3 linked regions of the Homo sapiens genome follow. The protein of the gene in region 2 purifies or fractionates together with the protein of the main gene of each other region. This does not show direct contact. Each region holds a gene or a part of one and is shown on either strand. Other genes may lie near its edges.

Region 1 (3,655 bases), on a different chromosome or scaffold from region 2:
GCACTCCAGCCTGGGCAACAGAGCAGGGCTCTGTCTCCAAAAAAAAAAAAAGAATCATTTATGCTGAGAAACAGAATGAGAACCAAGTCTTCTACCACCTTTTTGTGTAGGATATATAATTCAAGAATGGGCTAGAAAGTGAATTACAGGTAATTTAAAAATGAACCTCCCATGATGGTCAGGATTCCAAATGTAGTTAATACATTCCTGAGTTCTCGGAAGAAACATAATGGGTGAATCCATCATGTTGTTAAGTGAAAAACAGCTCTGCTAAGTCTGCTAAAATTCAAGATTTTTTTCCTGACTTAGAATAAACGCAAGGAAAATAATGACATATTTAGAAGACAAGCAGGTACTAGTATTTCTCACCTTTTTCCAAATGGCAAATCTGTTACAATAATATCCACAGAGCCAGTTCTCAATGGCAGATTGCAGATATCCCACTGAACAGCATCTATGGGCAAGCCCCAGGAGGGTTTGCTGTGGGGACAAAGGAAAGGTGCTTCAACATACTGTGAAGCATAAAGTTATTACAACAATTTTTGTTTCTGAAGAGAGACTGCTACAGCAAAACATAAACTGCTAAGGATATCAGTGATAATATCAACCTATTCAAAATTTAAGAAATGGCACAAAGGTAAAAAATAGGTCAGGCTGGGCATGGTAGCTTGTGCCTATAATCAGCACTTTCAGGGGCTGAGGTGGGAGGATCACTGGACTCCAGGAATTTGAGACCAGCTGAGCAACACTGTGAGACCTTGTCTCTAAAATACTTTTTTAAGAAGTTAGCAGGGCATGATGGCACACACCTATAGTCCCAGCTACTCAGGAGGCTGAGGTGGGAGGATCACTTGAGTCCAGGAGTTGAAAGATGCAGTGAGCTAGGATTGTGCCGCTTTACTCCAGCCTGGGTGACAGAGCAAGACCCCCGTCTCAGAAAAAAGGGAAACAAACTGAAAACATGATTGTAATGCAGAGAACTGCAAAAGACAACTTTAAAAACAATGCTGAAGCAGTAAATTACATAACCGATGATACAAAAATTTAAGTTGCTGATAAAACATACACTGGAGAAAAACAATACTAAAGAATAGATAATGGGGTGATGTATCTGAAGAATAAAGTTTGTAAAACTAGTAATAACAGGAGGCCTAAAAGAAAAACAGATAGTAAAATTGGCAAATATATAGGTAATTGTTTCAAGATGAAAAACCAAAAGGAAAATATGTGCCATGCTATATAAAACAAGACTAAGAAAAAAGTTAAGATAAAAAATATAGATGACAGAAGACAGAATGAATAATAATAAATACAAAGGATTTAAATCCTCCTCATTAAGGCAAAGCAACTGGTTTAAGAAACAAAATAATGCACAGGCTAAGAACTGAAGATAAGTCAAAGGTTATCAGCAGAAATTAAGGATTTAATTGACATTTAATGAAGAATTTAAGAAAAAAATGCAATAAAAGCAATCATTACATAATTTTTAAAAGTACACATAAAATATGTATTATAACCGCATACCAATAACTGCACAAAACAAAAGGCAAAAAATATTAAAAACCAAAGTAAAATGGATAGAAATGTACAGGTTGAGGCCGGGCACAGTGGCTCATGCCTGTAATCCCAGCACTTTGGGAGGCCAAGGTGGGCAGATCATGAGGTCAGGAGATTGAGACCATCCTGGCTAACATGGTGAAAACCCGTCTCTACTAAAAATACAAAAAAAAAATAAGCCGGGCATGGTGGCGGGTGCCTGTAGTCCCAGCTACTTGGGAGGCTGAGGCAGGAGAATGGCGTGAACCCGGGAGGCGGAGCTTGCAGTGAGCCGAGATCAAGCCACTGCACTCCAGCCTGGGCGACAGAGTGAGACTCCGTCTCAAAAAAAAAAAAAAAAAAAAAAAAAAAAAAAAAAAAAAAAAGTACGGGTTGAACAGACAGTGTAGGTACAAACAAGATAAAATATTCAGAAGCTAGAAAGGTACGTTTGTTTAAATGTTTATCAGTTTTAATTAAAAAAAAAAAAGACTGGCCATATACTAGGCTCATTAAAAAAAACCCTCAATAAATATGAAACAACCATTCAAAATTAATTCATCACAATAAATCAGTATTTAAGAAAATTGAAGCCTTCCAACTACTTGTCTTAATACACGTAAAAGGATTTAATGTTGATACATAGACCAGCAGCATCAGCATTGTCCTGGAGTTTCCTGGAAAATGCAGACTCTTAGGTCCCATCCCAAACTACTAAATCAGATCTGTGTTAACAGTACTCCTAGGTGATTCACATGTACATTAATGTTTGAGAAGCACTGTCCTAAAAAATTAGATCAGAGAGACAATGAAATATATAACCAATGACTTAGTAATAAAATAGAGGCGAGGCTATATAAACTGCAGTATTTCTATACGATGGAATTTATGTAGTGACTTTAAAGACTATGGTCCAGGTGTGGTGACTCGTCTCTAATCCCAGCAATTTGGAAGGCTGAAGCGGCAGAATCTCTTGAGGCCAGGAGTTTGACACCAGCCTGGACAAAACAGCAAGACCCCCATCTCTACGAAGATTTTAAAAAATTAGCTGGGCATGGTGGCACATGCCTGTATTCCTAGCTACTAGGGAGGCCAAGGCAGGAGGATTGCTTGAGCTCAGTAGGTTGAGGCTACAGTGAGCCATGATCATGTCACTGCACTCCAGCCTGGGTGACAAAATGAGACCCTGTACCCAAAGCAAAAAAGAAGCCTATGTAAAAATATACTGTTTAAAATTTTGTGAAATTAAAATGAGTCTATAAAATATTCTTCCAATATGTAGGGGAAAAGACATATGAATAAGACAAATGAAAAATTGCATATGGTGGGGAAATTATCGCTAAAATAATATTTTAAAAATATAACTTATTTTCAATAAACTTTAAAAATGTAAATGGAGTCTCATAGTATATTCATTTTGGTTACAATGACGTCACAATGCACTGGGAGTTTTAATTCATAAAGTCAATATAAAAAGTGATTCTCTAACTCTAAAAGATGCTAAGAAATCTTTTAAATTTTTACCCTTCTTTAATTTGGCTCTTGGTCAATAAAGATGCAATGTTATTTGCTGCTCTATTCACAGCCAGTGGATTATTATCACCAGCAATATGGAAACAGTCAGACCATTCAGTGGCCCCCTAAAAGATAAGAGTGTATGTTAAAACAAAAGTAGCAAACTGTAAAATATGATTAAATTGTCAACAAACAAAGAAAATCCAGTGCTTTTCTAGAGTGGCAAAACATTGCATGTTGTCAACTGTGCTATTTCCCTGGCTGAAAATGCCCTCTTATTCTTTCTCTGCTTGCTGAACCTCTACCCATCTCTTAAGACCCAGCTCAAACCTCATGCCCTTTCAACATCAACCTTAACTCTCCAAGCAGTCTTATGTGCCCCTCCCAAAAACACTTTGTATGTACGTACCTCTGCCACTGCACTTGTCCCACGGTTAATTATTTCTTCCCCTTTATGCCTCTCAACTAACCTGGGAGCTCTCTGAGGTCAGGTCTAGTATTTTATTCAGTTCCTCATCCAGCAGTGTCTGGCACACTAAATTCTAAGTTAATGCGGTTTGAAAATATTTGAGATTTGTGGTTGTGGGAGTTTACATAATCTGAT
Region 2 (3,655 bases):
AATGAGACACCATCTCACACATAGATTTTCCCAATAACTCAGAGCTGTCATTTACCACGCTTTCACCCTCTCAAGAATATATAGTATCAACAGCTATCATTTATTGAGTGCTTACTGTATCCATGCTCTTTAAATGTATTATCTCCTGTGAGTTGAATGTTATCAGCTCCATTTTACAGACGAGGAAACTGAAGCTCAGAAGTCACACTTTTAGTAAATTCTACATTTGAAATTTGAACCCGTGTCTGACTTTGAGACTGAACCACATCAGAGCCCTATCAGCAATGCCATCTGCCTCTTTTCTTACATTCAGTCAGTGGCCAAATCCTAGAGGCTCTTTATTGAGAATCTATCTACATTCTTTTACTCCTATTCTCATGGCAAGGTCCTCATTATGGTTCATGATGACTATTTCAGTATTGGGTTCCCCTGTTCACTGCAGCTCTTCCCCTTACTTCCCATCCTTCACCTCACGGCTCTAATTACATGGCTCTCCTGCTCACACATCCTCAGGAGCTTCCCCTTCCTCTCCCTCCTGAGATGAGGCCACATGCTTCAGCTAGTATCCAGGGACCTCTGTGCTCTGATCCCACCAGGCTTACCTCCCACGATTTCCTATAAAACCTTAAATGAGACAGTGTAAATATCTGTGCAATGCCTGGCACATCCACAAGAGACCCTCGGGGGCTGTTAGTTCCATATGTTGTTCTTTTGCACATTGAAGACCCAGTTAAAATAACCGCCTCCTCCATTCTTTGTTCCTCCAGGTTGAACATTTTCCTTCTGAACCCTTCTGAGGGCATTTTGTGTTTATCTTACTTTAGACAGTTAAAGTCCTCTTTGATTAGAGTTGCTTCAGTTTTTCCTATGATTTGTAAATTCTATAAAGACAAAGACCTTCCTTGTTTTGTATTCATATTCTACATAGTACTTGGCATGGCTTCCTGTGCATAGTAGGAAGCTCAACAAATATGCCTGTTGAGTTAGATTAATATTTGTGTACAGACACTCAGGAGCTCTCTTACAGCAGATGGTTCCAAATGACTTGACATTTCCGTATTGTCTTTCTTTTTTCCTTCACCTCCCAGTTAATTGAGTTAGAATGTATTTGTGTAAGCAAAAATATCTGCCAGACCTTGAATTCAGTGATAATATTCCTGTAAACAAGTCTACATGTAAGAATGGCAACGAATGCAGACTTCCCTTGAGCTGGTATACAAAGTTTAGGATATTCAAGGTTGGCCGTGGGCTGTCAAGGAGCCAGGTTCAAGCCTAGCTGAAATAGTAAAGAACGATAGAAACCCACTGTATAGAGAAGGGGTAGTATTGTGGGTGGTTTATGGGAGGTGAGTAGAATTGATGGGGGCTGCTAAAAAGGCTGTTGTCATTTGGAAGTTTACAAAATCTTTGTGAAAACCTCTCTCTGAATCAGGACTAGCCTAGGACAGGGTGTTGGCAAACCAGTCTGCTGGCCAACTCTTGTCCTCTGCCTGTTTTGGTAAACACAGTTTTATTGGACCAGAGATACACCCTTTGTTTACATATGGGACCGTCATGGTTTCTCTGGCACTACAATAGCGGAGCTGAGTCATTGCAACACAGGCCATATGGGCTGCAAAGTCACAAAGCCTAAAATATTTACTATCTGGCCGGTTTCCGAAAATGTCTGCTTACCCATGGCCTAGGACTTTGCTTGATTGCCATGGCCTAAAGATTTCCCTGTCTTAATTTATTATCCTCACATGAGTCGTATGGACACAACAATGAGGAGAATGGGTTCATGAATAAATGATACCTTGCCATCACTTTTATTCTCATTTTTTTAAATCGGTAGATGGTAGACATTGTCTGATATTTTTATTTCTTTGTAAGGTAATTTGAAAATCCTTATTATTAATCTGGATTATTAGGAAGTCCCAAAATATTTCAGTTTTCTATAAGCAGGAACATCAGAGTAAATCTGGCTGTGATAAACACTTATGGGTAAATAAAAACCATTATGGATGCCTAAATGTACAAGCCTTGCCCTCATGTGTTGTTATCTTGTTCATGAAGTATCCTAAAATAGTTCAGCATATACTATGTGACACGTGCATGTTACTTAGTTTTAATTTGTGCCCTAAGGGTGGCTGGATGACATTTGAAGTGCCTTATTCAGGAATATACTATCCAGGGGTCTTTAGTAAGCACTTAAAAATCCGTAATGAGGTGACCACCTCTTTTTAGAGGGTTCATCTACCGTCTTCTCTGATGGGCACTCCAGGGTATGCTAATTAGCATAAGGGATATGAGAAATAATTTTTCACTGGTGACATGAAAGATGCCTCAGGTATGTGGATCGACAAGAAATAACGTACAGGTGCCTTCTCTGCTTCTATACCCAAGACATGAGATTGCACTGAATCCAGCAGCTGACTTACCCTTTGGAGTAGCGTTCTTCTAGGTTCTCTAGCTGAATGCAGGACTCCAAAGCCTGAAGGTGACTAGAAGCTTAGTTGAGTCCTGCCTCTAGAACACAGGCCTAAAAGGACAGTGAGCTAGGACTTCCTTGAGCTTATAAGAACAGACTGGTTAACTAAGCCTGTTTGCTAATACATGTGTGGGTTTATGGCAGAATTCCATCAGTGAACTTGGATTCATGGTAATTTAACTCTTGGTAGGGAAGTTGCAGAGGAGGAAACCTAGAGCCCTTACCTATCTCTGATGGCCAAATTACCTTAGGTCAGTTTATCCCAAATGTAGAAAAAGTACTGCAGTAAAACTCCTCTCTGTGGCTGTTCTGCATTCAACCAACACAAACCATCCCTTCAGAAATACCCCAGAAACTCAGCTGTAAGATGTTAAACAGGCATTGTTAAAACATATTTATGGACTATTGTCAAAAAATATTTATGGATTATTATTTAAAATATTTATAGATTATTGTTTAAAATATTTATGGATAATTTATAAATTTTATTAATACTAGATCTTTACATCTGTTAAATTTAAAAATGGTCATCGGTCAGGCATAGTGGCTCACATCCCAGCACTTTGGGAGGCCAAGGCAGACAGATCACTTGAGGCCAGGAGTTCCAGACCAGCCTGCCCAGCAGAGTGAAATCCTGTCTCTACTAAAAATACAAAAAAATTAGCTGGGCATGGTGGCATGTGCCTGTAATCCCAGCTACTCTGGAGGCTGAGGCATGAGAATTGCTTGAACCTGGAAGGCAGAGGCTACAGTGAGCCAGGATCATGCCACTGCACTCCAGCCTGGGTGACAGTGTGAGACCCTGTCGCAAAAAAAAAAAAAAAAAAAAAGAAAGAAAAAAAAGAAAGCCATGCAAGATCAGCTCTAATTCAATTTCTAATTGTGTGTATCTCTAATCCATATTTATCTCTACTTGTTACAGGTCTAATTTTCCCCAAATCAAAACGAAAAAAAATTATTTTTTGTTTGGTTGTTCTGGTAGAACTTTATCGACTGTGGATGCTATCATGATGGGGGAAATGTAATCATTTTTCAGACTATACCCTTTTGTATGAAACCACTAGAAACTGTGTGTTTGAAATACAGAACTGTTTCTGAGCAGGGGCTGCTGGAGTCCACCAGGATTACAGTCATGACAAGCACTGTGTTTCCTGGGACGGTTTCCATCTCCGTCTGGGTGTTCCA
Region 3 (3,655 bases), on a different chromosome or scaffold from region 2:
CAGAATAAAGCATGGAAAAATAGACAAAAGGATGAAAAACACAGAAGAGAGTATAGAGATATGAAAGATAGAGCAGGGTCTAACATACATTTAATTGGAATTCTAGAAGGTGAGGAGAGAATGAAGGAGAATCAATATTTTAGAAGAATGGCTGAGAAGTTTCAAAACTGATTAAAGATATCTACCCACAGATTCAGGAATCTTAACGGAATCCCAATCAGGACAAACAATAGGAACCCATCATTAAGACACAGCAGATTGAAGCTAAACAAAATCAAAGACAAAGAGAAAACTTTTACATGCAGCCAGAAGAATAAGACAGGTTACTTATAAAAGAGCTGCAGTTAGACTGGCAACTGACTTTTTAATGATGACACTGGAAGATGGAATGATATATTCAATATACTGAAATGACCACCCAGCAAAAGCACCCTTCAACAATGAAGGCAAAAGCATGACATTTTCAGACAAACAATAACTGAGAGAGTTTACTACCAATAGACCATCATCAAAAGAAATCCCAAAGGATGCATGATCATTTAGGAAAATTACCCCAGATGGAATGTTAGAGGTGTAAGACAGAATGAATAGTGAAGAAAGTGGTAAATCTGTGAGCAGATTAACTAAACATTTGGCTATAAAACAATAATACTTCGAGGCACTTGAAAATATAAACAGACTTGAAATATACAAGAAATGTAGCATATAAGTTGGAGGTGGTGATGATGGTGGTTAGTGGAGTTAAATTATTGTTAATCTTGTCTTGTTTTAAAGGAGAACAGCATCAAGAAAGAAAGAAAAAGACAATTCTTGGCTGTGCAGGACTCTCTTGATCATTGTACAATAACTAGCATTCTTGTCTTCTTTCCACTAAATATAAGTAGCACCCATGTCCTCCCATCACCATGGTTACCAAAAACACCCTCATTAATTTTCAATATGTCCCTGGGGGCAGTGCTGCTTTTGTCAGGAACTGCTTTTGTAAATTCTACAATGCTCAGGCTCCATGATTACAATTCATAGAACAGCAAACACTTAGAAGTCTGGCAACTAAATGATTGTCTTTTTTTTACCTAGAGGTGTTACTTTTAAATTGGAAAGTTTATTCCTGATTATTTTCATTCATTCGTTCATTCAAGAAATATACATTGAATGCCTATTATTATCAGGCAAACTCTTAAGTCAATAGACCCAAATTCGAGTTTTTGTTTGTTTGTTTGTTTGTTTGTTTGAGAGAAGATCTTGCTCTGTCTCACAGGCTGGAGGGCAGTAGTGCAATCCTGACTTACTGCAACCTCCTCCTCCCAGGCTCAAGCGATCCTCCCACCTCAGCCTACCCAGTAGCTGGGGCTACAGGTGCTCACCATCACACCTGGCTAAATTTTTAGTTTATTTTGTAGAGACGAGGTTTTGCCATGTTGCTCAGGCTAGTCTTGAACTCCTGGGCTCAAGCAATCTACCTGCCTTGGCTTCCCAAAGTGCTGGGATTACTGGTGTGAGCTACCGCGCCCAGCCAAATTCAAATTTTACTTCTGCTACTTATTGGCCGAATGAGCCATGTGACCCAGGAGTTTCTCTTTTTGACCCAAGTTTCTCTTGGTGTAAAATGGATTTAATAATAATGCCTAACCTTATCTAACTTACAGAATCACTGTTAAAATTGACTAAGATGCAGGGCATTTAAAAGTGAACAGAAAATTGTATCACATCCACAAAACATAGATAAGCTAAGCACATACTACATGTTAGCTTTTATTATGTGTACTCCTATGGTGGCTAAAATATGCTACATTTATCAGGACCAACTATATGCCGTGTTACTCTAGCTATGGCATGCTACTCGTTGCAGATAAGAAAGCAGAAAGAACAGAAAGGTTAAGTTGCTTACTTAAGGCCAGCCAGCCAGTAAGTGGGAGGAAAGGGCATCTGAACATATATTTGTTTGAAACTCTTGTTTTAACTTATCCACCTTCTGAAGAGTGTGGTTGACTCTCTCTCTGTGTGTGTGTGCGTGCGTGTGTGTATGTAGCATTGATTCATTTATTCAACAGTTATTTACACCTATTATGCACCAGGCTCTGTTTTAAGTTCTGGGGATACAGCAGTGAACAGAACACCAAAATCCCTTCCTTTCTCTCTTCCTTCCCTTTCATTCTCCCTTCTGTTGCAGGCTCCTCTCTCCACCTCTTTTTCCTTTCTCTCCTTTTTCCATCCCTCTATTTCCCTCCACCACTCCCCCTCCTCTTCCCTTCACTCCCTTCTTTCTCTCCTCCCCCCACCCCTCCTCTGCTCCCAGTCGAGACAGGACCCACCAGGCCTGGTGGGAGGGCCATACATTTTGGTACCAGTGCTTGACTAGGCGGATGAGGCTCTTGAGCTTGGTGGGGCGCTGCTTCAGGAAGTCTCTCTGTAGTTCTGTGAAGCAGGTGGAGAACTCGCCCTCTTTCTGCAGGTCGGTGCACTCCTCGATGAGCTTGACATAGATTTGGGGGTTAGGTTTATAGCCGCCAGTCAACTGACCTGTTCGGGCAAAATCTACAACTTAGGTGTCAGCTCTTCTCTGAATTTCCTTCAGTCACTCTGAGGGGACAATCTCCCTGGCCATGGGGTTTGATTGAAAAGTGCAGCAGACCCAGGGCTGGGAAGTCTTGAGGTCCATTCCTGATCCTCCCTCCTGCCCTCTCCACTGCCATCACCCCATCCAAGCCACCACCGTCACTCGCCGGAACTATGGCAGCAACCTCTTTACAGGTTCCCCCACAGCCTGTTCTCAACCTGGCACCTAGAGAATGCTGCTGATCATGCTGCTTCCTGCATCCCATAACATCTGGAATTTTAAAACCCAAAGATCTTATGGTGGCCAATGATGTCTGGTGTGATCTGGTCTCTGGAACCTCTCCCACCTCACCTCCTGTCTTGCTTCCTTTGCCCACTTTCTACTTCTCTGACTTTTTCTCTCTTCCTCAAATGTGCCATGGTCATTGCTGCTTCAGGGCCTCTGCACTTGCCATTCCTCTTCCCAGAACCTCCAGATCTCCCCAAGGCTCACTCCTTCTCGCCACTCAGGCTCAGGGACCCTCCCTCACGACCCTGTCTAAAAAAGCTCCCTAACCCCCATGGCTATCTATTGTTTCACCCTACTTAGTTTTCTTTTCTTTTCTTTTTTAATCACTCCTTATATTCTTTTCTTTTTTCTTTTTTTCGAGATGGAGTCTCACTCTGTTGCCCAGGCTGGAGTGCAATGGCATGATCTTGGCTCATTGCAACCTCCATCTCCTGGGTTCAAGCAATTCTCCTGCCTCAGCCTCCCGAGTAGCTGTGATTACAGGCACACACCACCACGCCCAGCTAATTTTTGTATTTTTAGTAGATGTGAGATTTCACCATGTTGGCCAGGCTGGTCTTGAATTCCTGACTTCAAGTGATCCCCCCACTTTGGCCTCCCAAAGTGCTGAGATTACAGGCGTGAGCCACTGTGACCAGCCTTCTCCCTCTTGTCTTTTACAACCATTGTACTTCAGCCCCCAACACAGGAGATGGCACAAAGGAGAGAATCCAAAACTTTCTCATACCCTGGTGTCTTTGGAGAGTCAGCATTTTTTTTTTCATGGCTGCCCTAGGACTAAAGGAAACTGTGACAGTTCCTTTAATTAAG

Evidence for each region.
Region 1: the proteins of FAM114A1 (region 2) and THUMPD3 fractionate together in Homo sapiens (co-fractionation; one large-scale study listed by BioGRID). This does not show direct contact.
Region 3: the proteins of FAM114A1 (region 2) and OAS1 purify together in Homo sapiens (co-immunoprecipitation; one large-scale study listed by IntAct). This does not show direct contact.

What each region holds. Positions count from the first base shown.
Region 1 is NC_000003.12:9,380,024-9,383,678, reverse strand, and holds part of THUMPD3 (tRNA (guanine(6)-N(2))-methyltransferase THUMP3), read right to left. Parts: intron 3,177-3,655; coding exon 3,061-3,176; intron 481-3,060; coding exon 370-480; intron 1-369. UniProt on the Homo sapiens protein: Catalytic subunit of the THUMPD3-TRM112 methyltransferase complex, that specifically mediates the S-adenosyl-L-methionine-dependent N(2)-methylation of guanosine nucleotide at position 6 (m2G6) in tRNAs.
Region 2 is NC_000004.12:38,870,732-38,874,386, reverse strand, and holds part of FAM114A1 (protein NOXP20), read right to left. Parts: intron 1-3,655. UniProt on the Homo sapiens protein: May play a role in neuronal cell development.
Region 3 is NC_000012.12:112,909,916-112,913,570, reverse strand, and holds part of OAS1 (2'-5'-oligoadenylate synthase 1), read right to left. Parts: intron 2,521-3,655; coding exon 2,336-2,520; coding exon of another isoform or gene 2,313-2,335; intron 1-2,312.